Regions from separate parts of the Homo sapiens genome. Here region 2 is linked to region 1. The links come from fine-mapping of genetic effects on gene expression. A gene starts in region 1. The other region holds a variant in brackets. All regions are shown on one strand. Distances are between the middles of the regions.

Region 1 (5,379 bases):
TCCTGGGGGAGTCTATGCTGGTACCCTTCCACAGCAGGAGCGCTCCTGCCTTGCCCACAGTAACTGTTTTGTACCGAGGCCAGCTGTACTCGGGAGCAGGAAAGCTGTGGACCAGCGCCTTTCCATTCTGGGAAACACAAGCCTTGCCCACTATTCCTCATCACGGATCTCCCAAGCTCCCCAGCTCTTTGGACTCCCCAGCTCCTTCCTCCCCAGGACCTTCGATCCGAATCTGGCCGCACAAAGTAACCCCCCAAACGCCGCACCTCGTTATGACCTGAAGCGCGAGTAGCTGGGATGAGTACGGCTGCCTCCGGCCAAAGCTTGGCAGAGGTTCCACCCGAGTCCAAGTGGTTTATCTGCTGAGAAGGGCAATACATTTATCTGCCCTTCTCGAGCCATACCCCCAGAGACAGGTCAACATCCCTCCCCCAGCCCCTCGCACCCATCTCCTCCTCCCAGTTATTTTTTCCGAATTAAGAAGGTGACATTATTCTTTTCTTCAAGCACTTCTGTTAATATTGAAAAACGTGCGCTTGCATCTCAACCGAGGCAGCCCAGAGCCAGAGCCATTTCAATATTAATGAAATTGTTTAATCTCCTAAATTCATCGTGTTTAAGTTACGTTTTGGTGAGTTATTGACCGCCTCCGAAACTGTAGTTAATGAAGTTGTGTGTGTGTGTGTTTGTGTGTGTGTGCATTCGCGCGCTGAAAGATCTTTTTTATGCTAACCCCAAACAGCTCCACTAATAATGCTCTAATATCACTTAAAGTGTTGAAACTTAACACCCAGAATTCTCTACGATCACCACGTCTAGGGAAAAAAAAAGTTCTCCCATTTCTGGACTTTGAAGATGATTCTGTGTGGGCTGTAAGTATTGAGTTTTTAACAACGCAGTAAAATGAATGTCTTTTAAAAACCTTAAAGGTCGGAGAATGTGCAGAAACCCGTGGGAACTCCTGGTGTGTACTTATAGAGTGCGTGCATGCAGGCGGGGTCGACTCACTATTTATTTCATAGCAATTTGATGATGATGATGATGACGGCAGCGACGACGATGAGGATAATGATAATAATAATAATGATTCATTTAACCCTTCCAAGGCGAATCCGAACCGAAGGGAGCCTGCTGCTCGCACCAGGCGGAGTGACCCAAGGCACATTCCCCGCTCCCCAAGAAGGAAAACTCTATGGTTCTTTCCCCAAGTTGTAGAAGATACTGCTGTCTTAGTGGGATCGCAGGCGGCTTTTGCTACACTCTAAATCCTAAATAAGTTCTCCATACCAAAAAAAGCGGCAGTTGGGGGATGGGGGGTGGGAGGTTGGGGGGGTGGGAGGGCTGGGAAGGGGAGTTCCGGGTGTAAAATGAAAACTTCCAGGATGTGCCTGAGTCCTAAAGTTTCAAACCACCTGGGAAAAGCGAGAGCCCCTGAGGCTTACCTGGTGATAAACTGTGTCAAACAAACTCAGGCCCTCCCCAGGTCCGCACAACATTTGCCCCAACAGCTCCTGAGCCTCCATCCTGTGTCCAACCAAATTCCCGGAGGACTTTTAAAGCAAATACCTGGACTCTTCGCCCAGATACACTATTTTAATTTTTAAAAATTTGGTCAATACAGTTACATTCAAAATGGGTTCTTACATGGGGATGTCCAATCACATTTTGAAAGTATTTGTAAACCCCATCACTTTTTCAAAGCTACACACTAACTATACAAAGCTGAAGCAGCTGCATAGGAAAGTCAAGTCAAATTTCGACCTAACTCTCCGGGGACTGGGGGGCAAGGGTGTGTTTTCATTATTATAACCCATGCAACCAACCCCGGGTAGTGCTAAGCGCAGGAAAAGGGTCGGCTTCAGGGGAAAGCCGTGCCTAAAGTTACCTAACGATACAAACCGGATACAACGCAGAGGAAACAGAATACCCCAGCCAAGCAATTTCCATGTCAAACATCATCCGCGCGGCTGCTCCATCTGTGAACGTGAGTGGTCGCCTGGCTCCCTCTTCCGCGGCGGCCGCTTCCTCATACCTTCACACGGCGCACACCGGCCGGCGCGTCCAGCTGCCTGCCCAGTGGCCGAGGCTCTTCCCCCTCGCCCAGTCTTGAGCTGGAAGTGATTCCTATTGGCCAAGGTGTCCATGTAAATAGGTGTGAAAGAAACCAGAGCTGGCCGGGCTCTCCCTTCTCGCTCAGTCCCCTCCCTCTGCAGCCCCCGCTCCCCCTCCTCTTCCTCCTCCTCCCAAGGCGATTGTCATATGATAGCTAAGAAGTGGCACATTAATGAAGCGCCGCTACAGGGGTCTTTTCTGCTCCTGTCACCGCTTAAAACTATCAGATGGTTCGAGGGAGGACATGGAGGCAGCCACCTAGCTCAGCGGAGACGCGGAGCCCACAGCAGCGCCCTCCGGAGCCCTAACACGTCGCTGCCACCATCCGCGCCGGGACTCCGCAGCCGAGCTCGGCCGCCCGCAGGACGCTCCAGGAGCGTCGCGGACCGGGCGGCACGGGACGCTGCGGGGCTGAGCTCAAGAGCCCAGGTTCGCGCCGAGTCCAACCGGACCCGGACGCTGCGCGCGGAGTGCGCGTCGAGTGCGCGCCGAGAGAGAAGCGGCGCGCAGCGGCGTCCTCCCGGATGCGGACGCGCAACTTGAAGCAACTTTAAGGTGAGCAGCTCTCTGTTCCGTCCCTGCCCCCTATTCTGGCCCCAGTACCGACTTACTTCCCGGCTATCCTCGCGCCGTTCGCCGGCTTCCCCTCCCGCGCCCACTAAGCCCGCAAAGTTGCTGGCGAAAGAGTCCGGGCGCTGGCTGATCGAGCGCCGCAGGCCCCACCCCCGACCCCCGAAGTCTGTTACTCGGTCTGGCTGACCCCGCCGGTGTCTCTGTGCATCCATGCTACCTTTCCCTATTACCCACCCCCTTCCCAGATCCGAGCAGTCCGCCGGCCCGCGCGGACCCAGAGCAAGAAGAGGGCGAGGAAGAAGATGCCTCGGCCCGGCCGCAACACGTACAGCGACCAGAAGCCGCCCTACTCGTACATCTCGCTGACCGCTATGGCCATCCAGAGCTCTCCCGAGAAGATGCTGCCGCTGAGCGAGATCTACAAGTTCATCATGGACCGCTTCCCCTACTACAGGGAGAACACGCAGCGCTGGCAGAACAGTCTGCGCCACAACCTCTCCTTCAACGACTGCTTCATCAAGATCCCGCGGCGGCCGGACCAGCCAGGCAAGGGCAGCTTCTGGGCGCTGCACCCAAGCTGCGGGGACATGTTCGAGAACGGCAGCTTCCTGCGGCGCCGCAAGCGCTTCAAGGTGCTTAAGTCCGACCACCTGGCGCCCAGCAAGCCAGCCGACGCGGCGCAGTACCTGCAGCAGCAGGCCAAGCTGCGGCTCAGCGCGCTGGCGGCCTCGGGCACGCACCTGCCACAGATGCCCGCCGCCGCCTACAACTTGGGCGGCGTGGCGCAGCCCTCGGGCTTCAAGCACCCCTTCGCCATCGAGAACATCATCGCGCGGGAATACAAGATGCCTGGGGGGCTGGCCTTCTCCGCCATGCAGCCGGTGCCCGCTGCCTACCCGCTCCCCAACCAGTTGACTACCATGGGCAGCTCGCTGGGCACCGGCTGGCCACACGTGTATGGCTCCGCCGGCATGATCGACTCGGCCACCCCCATCTCCATGGCGAGTGGCGACTACAGCGCCTACGGCGTGCCGTTGAAGCCGCTGTGCCACGCGGCGGGCCAAACGCTGCCCGCCATCCCCGTGCCCATTAAGCCCACGCCGGCCGCCGTGCCCGCGCTGCCTGCGCTGCCAGCGCCCATCCCCACCTTGCTCTCGAACTCGCCGCCCTCGCTCAGCCCCACGTCCTCGCAAACAGCCACCAGCCAAAGCAGCCCCGCCACCCCCAGCGAAACGCTCACCAGCCCGGCCTCCGCCTTGCACTCGGTGGCGGTGCACTGACCCGCAGGAGCCCACGCCCCCTCTCGTTCTCCTCCCCACCACCTCACTCGCCTTCCCTGGCTCCCAGTCCTGCCGGCCCCCACCTGGGACCGCCACCCTAACTTGTTCATTTCACCTTCGGCCAACCCGCCTTGCCCCAAGAGAACTTTGTTTTGGACCCAGGAGACCAAACACAAACTTGCAGATGGGCCGAGAGGCGCGTGGGAGTTGTCCTCGCCCCCACATCAAGGAAGGCCGGGGCCACCTGAGCCGAACCATCCCCTCCCTGAGGCCCCGAAACCCCCTCCTATTTGACCGGCGGGGGAAACCCTGTCACCCCCTCTTCGCCGAGAAAAGCGCGTCTTCCCTCCGCCCAGATCGGCGGAGCCCCGAACTCTGCGCAGTTTCAAGACTAGAGAAACTGCCTCAGATGTTTCCAGGAACAGATCCCCCCCACACCCCCTCCCCGCGAGGGCTGCAACAGCGCAGGGGAGGGCCGGATCTCTTTACGTCTTGGAAATCTGCAGCAAAAAGGAGCCACTAATCTTCCTACCCCACTCGCCTCCGCCCATCCGGCAGGGGCTGGGCCGACCACAGCTTCCCGGGGTTGCGGCCCTGCCTCCTAGGCTTCTGCGGAGATTTTGTTGTTGTTTGGGGTTTTGTTTCCTTCCAGAGGCTCCAGGCGCTGGGAGTTAGGAAAGAGGCTGCCAAGCTGAGAAAGCGACGCTCGTCCTCACACAGCAAAACAAAACTAAAAGTAACCTTGTATTGTTTACAAAGCGCCCAGTAATATGTAAACAGTGAACTTGAATCTGTCTTGCTAGGCGGACGAACGGGCAAAGCCCACATTATAAGTACCTGTTGTAATGTGAATGTTTACTCTTCATTTCTGGCCAGGTTTAGAAAGGGAGGGAAGTGGGGATGGGAAAGTTAATTGGGATGTTAACTTTCCGATGACTTAGAGACCTTTTTAGCTATTTATTTTATTGTTGGGAAAAAAAAAAAAAAAAAAGAAGGAAAGAAAATGAAATAAGCCCAAACCAAGAAAGCATCAAGGGCAACCCGGGAAGAACTTAGATAAGCTGACTGGTAACATGAAGGGATGTCACCGGATAGCTCTCCCACGGACAAGTCTTTCTGTTTGCTACCAGAACTTTTCCAAGAAGCTAAAGGGCTGCAAAGAGATGTAAATACTTGTGAATAGGAATGATTATACACTGTGTAAAATGCACTTTTGTTTGCTGTATTCCTTTAGAATCTTAGATAATTGGCTGGAAAACGAACTGTTGTTCTGGTGTGACCTGCTTAAGTTAAAAAAAAAAAAAGTTGTAGTGTCATCAGAGCTGTAAAATTTTTACCTTTCATTTTCCCTCCCTGTACAGAATTAGCGTGGCATTTTAAATATTGATGTTCTTGTTCCCAGCATGCCTGTTTT
Region 2 (5,379 bases), 28 kb before region 1:
CTCTGGGAGAATGGACTCAGTGTCAGCGGAGTTTGTGAATGATGTAAAACTTTAACAGTGTCAATCATGGCAGTCTTTCCAGATGATTCTGAATGCCTCGCCAAGCTTTACACGACTGAAGAAAATTGCCTTCCATGAAGTGGTACCCAAAACTCCAGCCCTAATTAGTGCATCTAATTCAGTAAAGCTTTGTCCTCTTAAGCGTTGCTATCACTTTGCTAGCCATAGATTAACATCTAGGTAGTGCAGGTGCTTTAGCGCCACCCTAGAATCAAGCAACATGCATAAAGCAATCTTAAACACAGGTCCAGAAAGAAGCATGTATTTCTTATAACAGTACCAGCCAGAAATAGTTTTTTCTAGATGCCTTTCCATTCCAGGCCTAAGCTAATGTCACCCTTGCTTGTTGGCAGGACCATTTAGCCCACATGGTGGAGAGCAGTGTATGTTTCTCTAGTACATGCCATTATTTATTGACTATCTGCCTCACTTGCATCTGTGAGATGTAGAAACTCACCAGTGGTTTCCAAGGCCATCAGTTTTAAACGGCACCATCCATCACAAAATGGAAAGGAGTGATCAACGTTCCCTGAACTGCAATGCATTATACGAGGGTCAGCAAGTGGGAGTCATGGTTGGCGACACAATTGCTGGCCTCAGGTAGCATATCCATCCTTCCAGCTGTTCTGATCCATATGGGTTCAATGAACTGCAGAGAGTGCAGGACTCTTCTCATTGAGAGTATCTGCTGTAAGTCTTTCATCCAAACCTCATCATAACAAGTGTAAGGGAAGCTGACAACCATTTATCTAAACTTCATCTGGTAGCCAACTGCTGACAAAGAGGAAAACATGCACATTAGTGAGCAGACAGATGTGATCAGGGAAATTAAGGTGTTCTTATCTTGAAGAAACCAAAGATTTTAAATATAGGGAAAAAAATTTAGTCATTACGTCAATGCCAGATAGAAAGCCACTAGTGCTGTTTTCCCTGCTTAGTAAATTCCAGGGCTGTCCCCAGTAGTCCTGACACTCAATTTCTTATAACACAGAGCTATTAGGATAATATTATACAAACCTTCAGTTATCAAAATCAAGATTCTTGCTTTAATTTCTAGGGCCTAGAAATGGATTTCAAAATAGTAAATATTGCCTTTTTTCCTTATATTTTGGGTCCCAGTTTTAACTTTGCCCCAGACCAGCAAATTTTTCACCCCAGGAATTTCTTATTGATATTTGACGTATAGCCTATGTAAAAAGTTAAAATATATGATGGTGTATAAGTAAAAAATCCCTGGAATGCTTCCTTAACATCTCTGACCTTCGTATTTTCATCTGTACAATGTGGATCACGATAATTGTACTCCTCTTAACAAAGTGGTTCTCAAAGAAGGGTGATTTTCATCCCTCATGGGACAACTGACAAAGTCTGGAGACATTTTTGGTTGGCACAAGTAGGGGGAGGGGAGTGCCACTGTGCCACTGGCATCCAGTGAATAGAGGTCAGGGGTGCTGCTAAACATGCCACAGTGCACAGGACAACCCACAACAAAGAACTGTCCAGCCCAAAATGACAATAGTGCCAATGGTGGGAAACTCTGCCTTAACATCATGTGGTTGTTGTAGAAATCAAAGCAGATGCCTAGTGAAAAATGTTATGAATAGTGATAATCGTAATAAGATGTCTTAATTTGTAGCTTGTCTGTACGTTGCAATGCAAATTAGACTCTTATAAATGAAGCATAAAATGTGAAGGACAATAATTGCCAAAGAAAAAATCTTCATTGAAAAATATAAGGGTGGAATTGTGGTGACGCAGAGGCTGCCCTAATCACACCACTAAAAGCTTGGAAGTTGGCCTGGGTAACCAAGATCGCATTGCTCTCTCCACCAGGAGCTCAGGAGAATCATCCACCATCTCTGGCAGTGAAATCAGCTGCGAGGCTGGGGGATAAGTTCTGGAGCAAGGTCCACTGGGCTGGATTCCTCTGTAATGGGTGATCGAGTGGCATGTAAAGTACAGGGCCAGCTGTCTGATCTTGGATTATGCCTCATGAAGGGCTCTCAGGATCAAAGGACTGGTGAAGTATCACTGGTGAGGCCACACTGGGATAGGAGTTAATGGGCAGAGTGACTGGCAGGCAGGGATATGTCAGAAGGGAATGGAAAGCACAAAATTGCCAAATATATTATTCTAAAATATTATTATTATTATTCCCAAATATCTTCCTTTGGTAGTGGATCAGGTCATGGCCTGTTTGCTCTCAGATCTATTATTTGTCCTTCCCTGCTCTGCTCAGTCTAGGGGGCTGGGGAGGCTTGCAGGCTGCCTTCCATATGCCCCCATGTCAACGGGCATTTTACAGTGTTTGGCTAATGAGAAATAGGAGGGCAGAAGGAAGAGAGAAGCC[A/G]GAGGACCTCTTCCGTTCTCTGCTTCTGGTGCCTGTCGGGTATCACGTTCTTGCATCACCTCTTTAGTATCAGTGTCTATCAGAATGGTCTTCTGTGGTTTCAGCTTCCATCAGGTGCCCCCAGCCTCTGAGCTGTGGTAACACCACTTCCTCCACTCCACTTCCTCCCTTTGTCCCTCCAGTCTAGGCGTGTAGCTTCCTGCTACTGCTAACCTCTGTGTTGCTTTCTTGTGCTCTTTTCATCTTCTCAGCTCTTTCTGCACCTGTGTAACCTGTTCTTTGCACTAAATAAATTTCCTCTGATTTAAGAAGAGTGATTCCTTCTTTCTGGTTGGACCTTGAACGAAGGTCCTATTTTGATATTTTTTAGAGTAGAAGGTGGGGTACAATAGTGTGACACCTGGAACTCATGGTTATGCAGGTACAGCAAGAGCAAGGAATCAAAAGAATACAGAAGCAGCTGATATTCATCTACTTAACAGGTATTTGTTGAGCACCTACTATAAACTGGAAATTGTGCTGGGTATAGAAATTTGTTTTGAAACAAAAAATGCACTGCTTGTAACTTTCAACAAGTAATAACATAAAGAACTACAAAATTACTATATAATAGTGAATTGCTCTACTTAAGATATTTAAAAGCCATTTAAGAAGTCTGGCAACTCAAATAAATGCAGGAAACAGCACAAACCTTTCCATCAAAATAGCAGTTGAGCCAAAGTTCAGACTTAATATATTGGAGACAGAAGTTATAACTCTCCAGGTTTATCATTTCTAATATGAATATCATTAAGCCGCGTTTCCAAACCCCCAAATAATAGCCAACCCAGCTACATTCTGTTCCTTAGAGTGATGCTTGGGGAGCAACGTATTTTTGAAAAGATTCTTTTCCAGTTTAAAGTCATATATCAGAACCAAGAAGTATGAATAGGCCTTGGATTCGAAGTTTGCTGGATGGTTAAGCAAGCTTGTTAGGCAACCAGCTACGTCGGAATATTTACATAGAGAAAGAAAGAGCAGTTTTAAGACCGGCTGATGATTCAAGACATAAAATACATTTATTCTGTGAGCTGTTTGGGGGATATAGTAAAACATAAATATAACTGAAAACCTAAATTGTTGAGCCAACTGAAGAGACTCAGAATCAAATTCTATTCATATACATTTGCATGGCTTCCCTTGAAATCAACAGGCACTACATGTATACCTAAGGGCATTATATTTACATATTTTGCCCATTGCTGGCTTGGAGTAATTTTTTCTATAATAAGAATAGAAGAGAAGTTTATAGTTCACTCGCTGTTTTCATCTCTTTGTTCCAGTGTATTTCACTAAATACAAAAGAGTCTCACGAAGTTTTCATTGCTGTTGAAAAGGTAAATTGAGGCACTCATAAAGTAAATTGTCCCCAAATTGTCTTATAAATCACTGGCTGATTAAGAAATCCAAAATTTTAATTTGACACGATGCCACCCTTTCTGAAGATACAAGAATGATCAGATTTTCTCTGTGTAATAATACGTGTGGGCTTAGAAAGCACAATACTTCATTAAATTCCTTTTCTAGATATAAACACAAAATAGAATTCTTAAGAAAAAAAATAAAACCTTTGGTGTGGCATAGATTTTGTTTAAGATGCACTTTATTTAAACAGAGATAGTTAACATCAGTGGCTGGTTAGCAGCTGAATAATTACATTAAATATATTCACCTCAGTGAAGACTGAAAACAAAGAGATAGTAAGTAATTTTTTTTACAAGTACCCTGCTGTCATAGCAGCTGATCATGTTTAATAGCAACCAGTATTTCCACTAATTTTGCAAGAAAGACATGTTGGAGATAATTTCATCTTCTAGAGTAACTGTAAATAATCTTCTCAGAAGTGAGTTTACAATGACACCATATAGCATAACCACCAGCGAACAACTTGGAAACGTAATTTTTAGAACTGTAGTATTTGCAAATTAAAGGATTAATGTTAACTTCAGTCAACAGGGAAAATAAACTTGATGAGTAGAATACATTAATATCAAATCAGGTTTGTAGATAACATATACGTTTCATGCGATATCCCAAGGTGTCTGGGTGTCGCACTTTCTTTCTCAAGAGAACCTCAAAGGAAATCACTATTCATTCTAATTGTATCATTTTAATATTCATCTTGTAAACAATGCAACATTTTTGCATGAAGTTAAAAAAATTCAGGTCACTTTTTAAAATAAATCTTCAAGGAACTGGGGAATTAGAAAATCTAGTTTATTTTTTAATTGATAACAAAGAACATCAGAGGACCACAGGCATCATGACATCATGGTTTTCTTTTTATCATTAAATACAATTATGTAAACGGGAAGACTCTGCAGTTATTCCCCAAAGTAATATACAAACTCTAAAATGCAGGATGTTCACATAGCATAAATATAAACAAAATGAAAATTAAAAGCTATGAATTTTTTAAAGTTTGACCTATTGTGTAGATGTCAGTTATGTTATTTTGATAATTAACAAGCAAAAATAGGGCCAGAAAAACATAAGAATTTCAATAGTCCAAAACATGATGACAACCAGCAGAATTCAAACTTTTTTTTCAGATACAAGAATAATGACCCAATACTTTTTTTTTTTTTTTTTTTTTTTTTTGAGATGGAGTCTCGCTCCGTCGCCCAGGTTGGAGTGCAGTGGTGCGACCGCAGCTCACTGCAAGCTCCGCCTCCCGGGTTCACGCCATTCTCCCGTCTCAGCCTCCCAAGTAGCTGGGACTATAGGCACCTGCCACCACGCCTGGATAATTTTTTGTTTTTGCATTTTTAGTAGACATGGGGTTTCACCGTGTTAGCCAGGATGGTCTCGATTTCCTCACCTCGTGATCCGCCCACCTCAGCCTCCCAAAGTGCTGGGATTACGGGCATGAGCTACCGCGCCCGGCCGGCCCAATATAGTATTAAAAGAAATGTAACCATCCCTTCCTG

Evidence for each region.
Region 2: its variant is fine-mapped to the expression of FOXB1 in blood mononuclear cells (TOPMed, PIP 0.95).

Annotation. Positions count from the first base shown.
Region 1 is chr15:60,001,977-60,007,355 of GRCh38, forward strand. FOXB1 (forkhead box B1) reads left to right here and starts at 2,335. Exons shown (of 2, transcript NM_012182.3): 1 at 2,335-2,667; 2 at 2,931-5,379. The coding sequence starts at 2,988. The coding sequence ends at 3,965. RefSeq lists enhancers at 2,016-2,531, 4,348-4,427, 4,508-4,627 and a silencer at 4,634-4,928.
Region 2 is chr15:59,974,166-59,979,544 of GRCh38, forward strand. No RefSeq gene overlaps it. Among named protein-coding and RNA genes, the nearest start is that of FOXB1, 27 kb to the right of the region's middle. The variant A/G (reference allele first, on the strand shown) is at 2,411.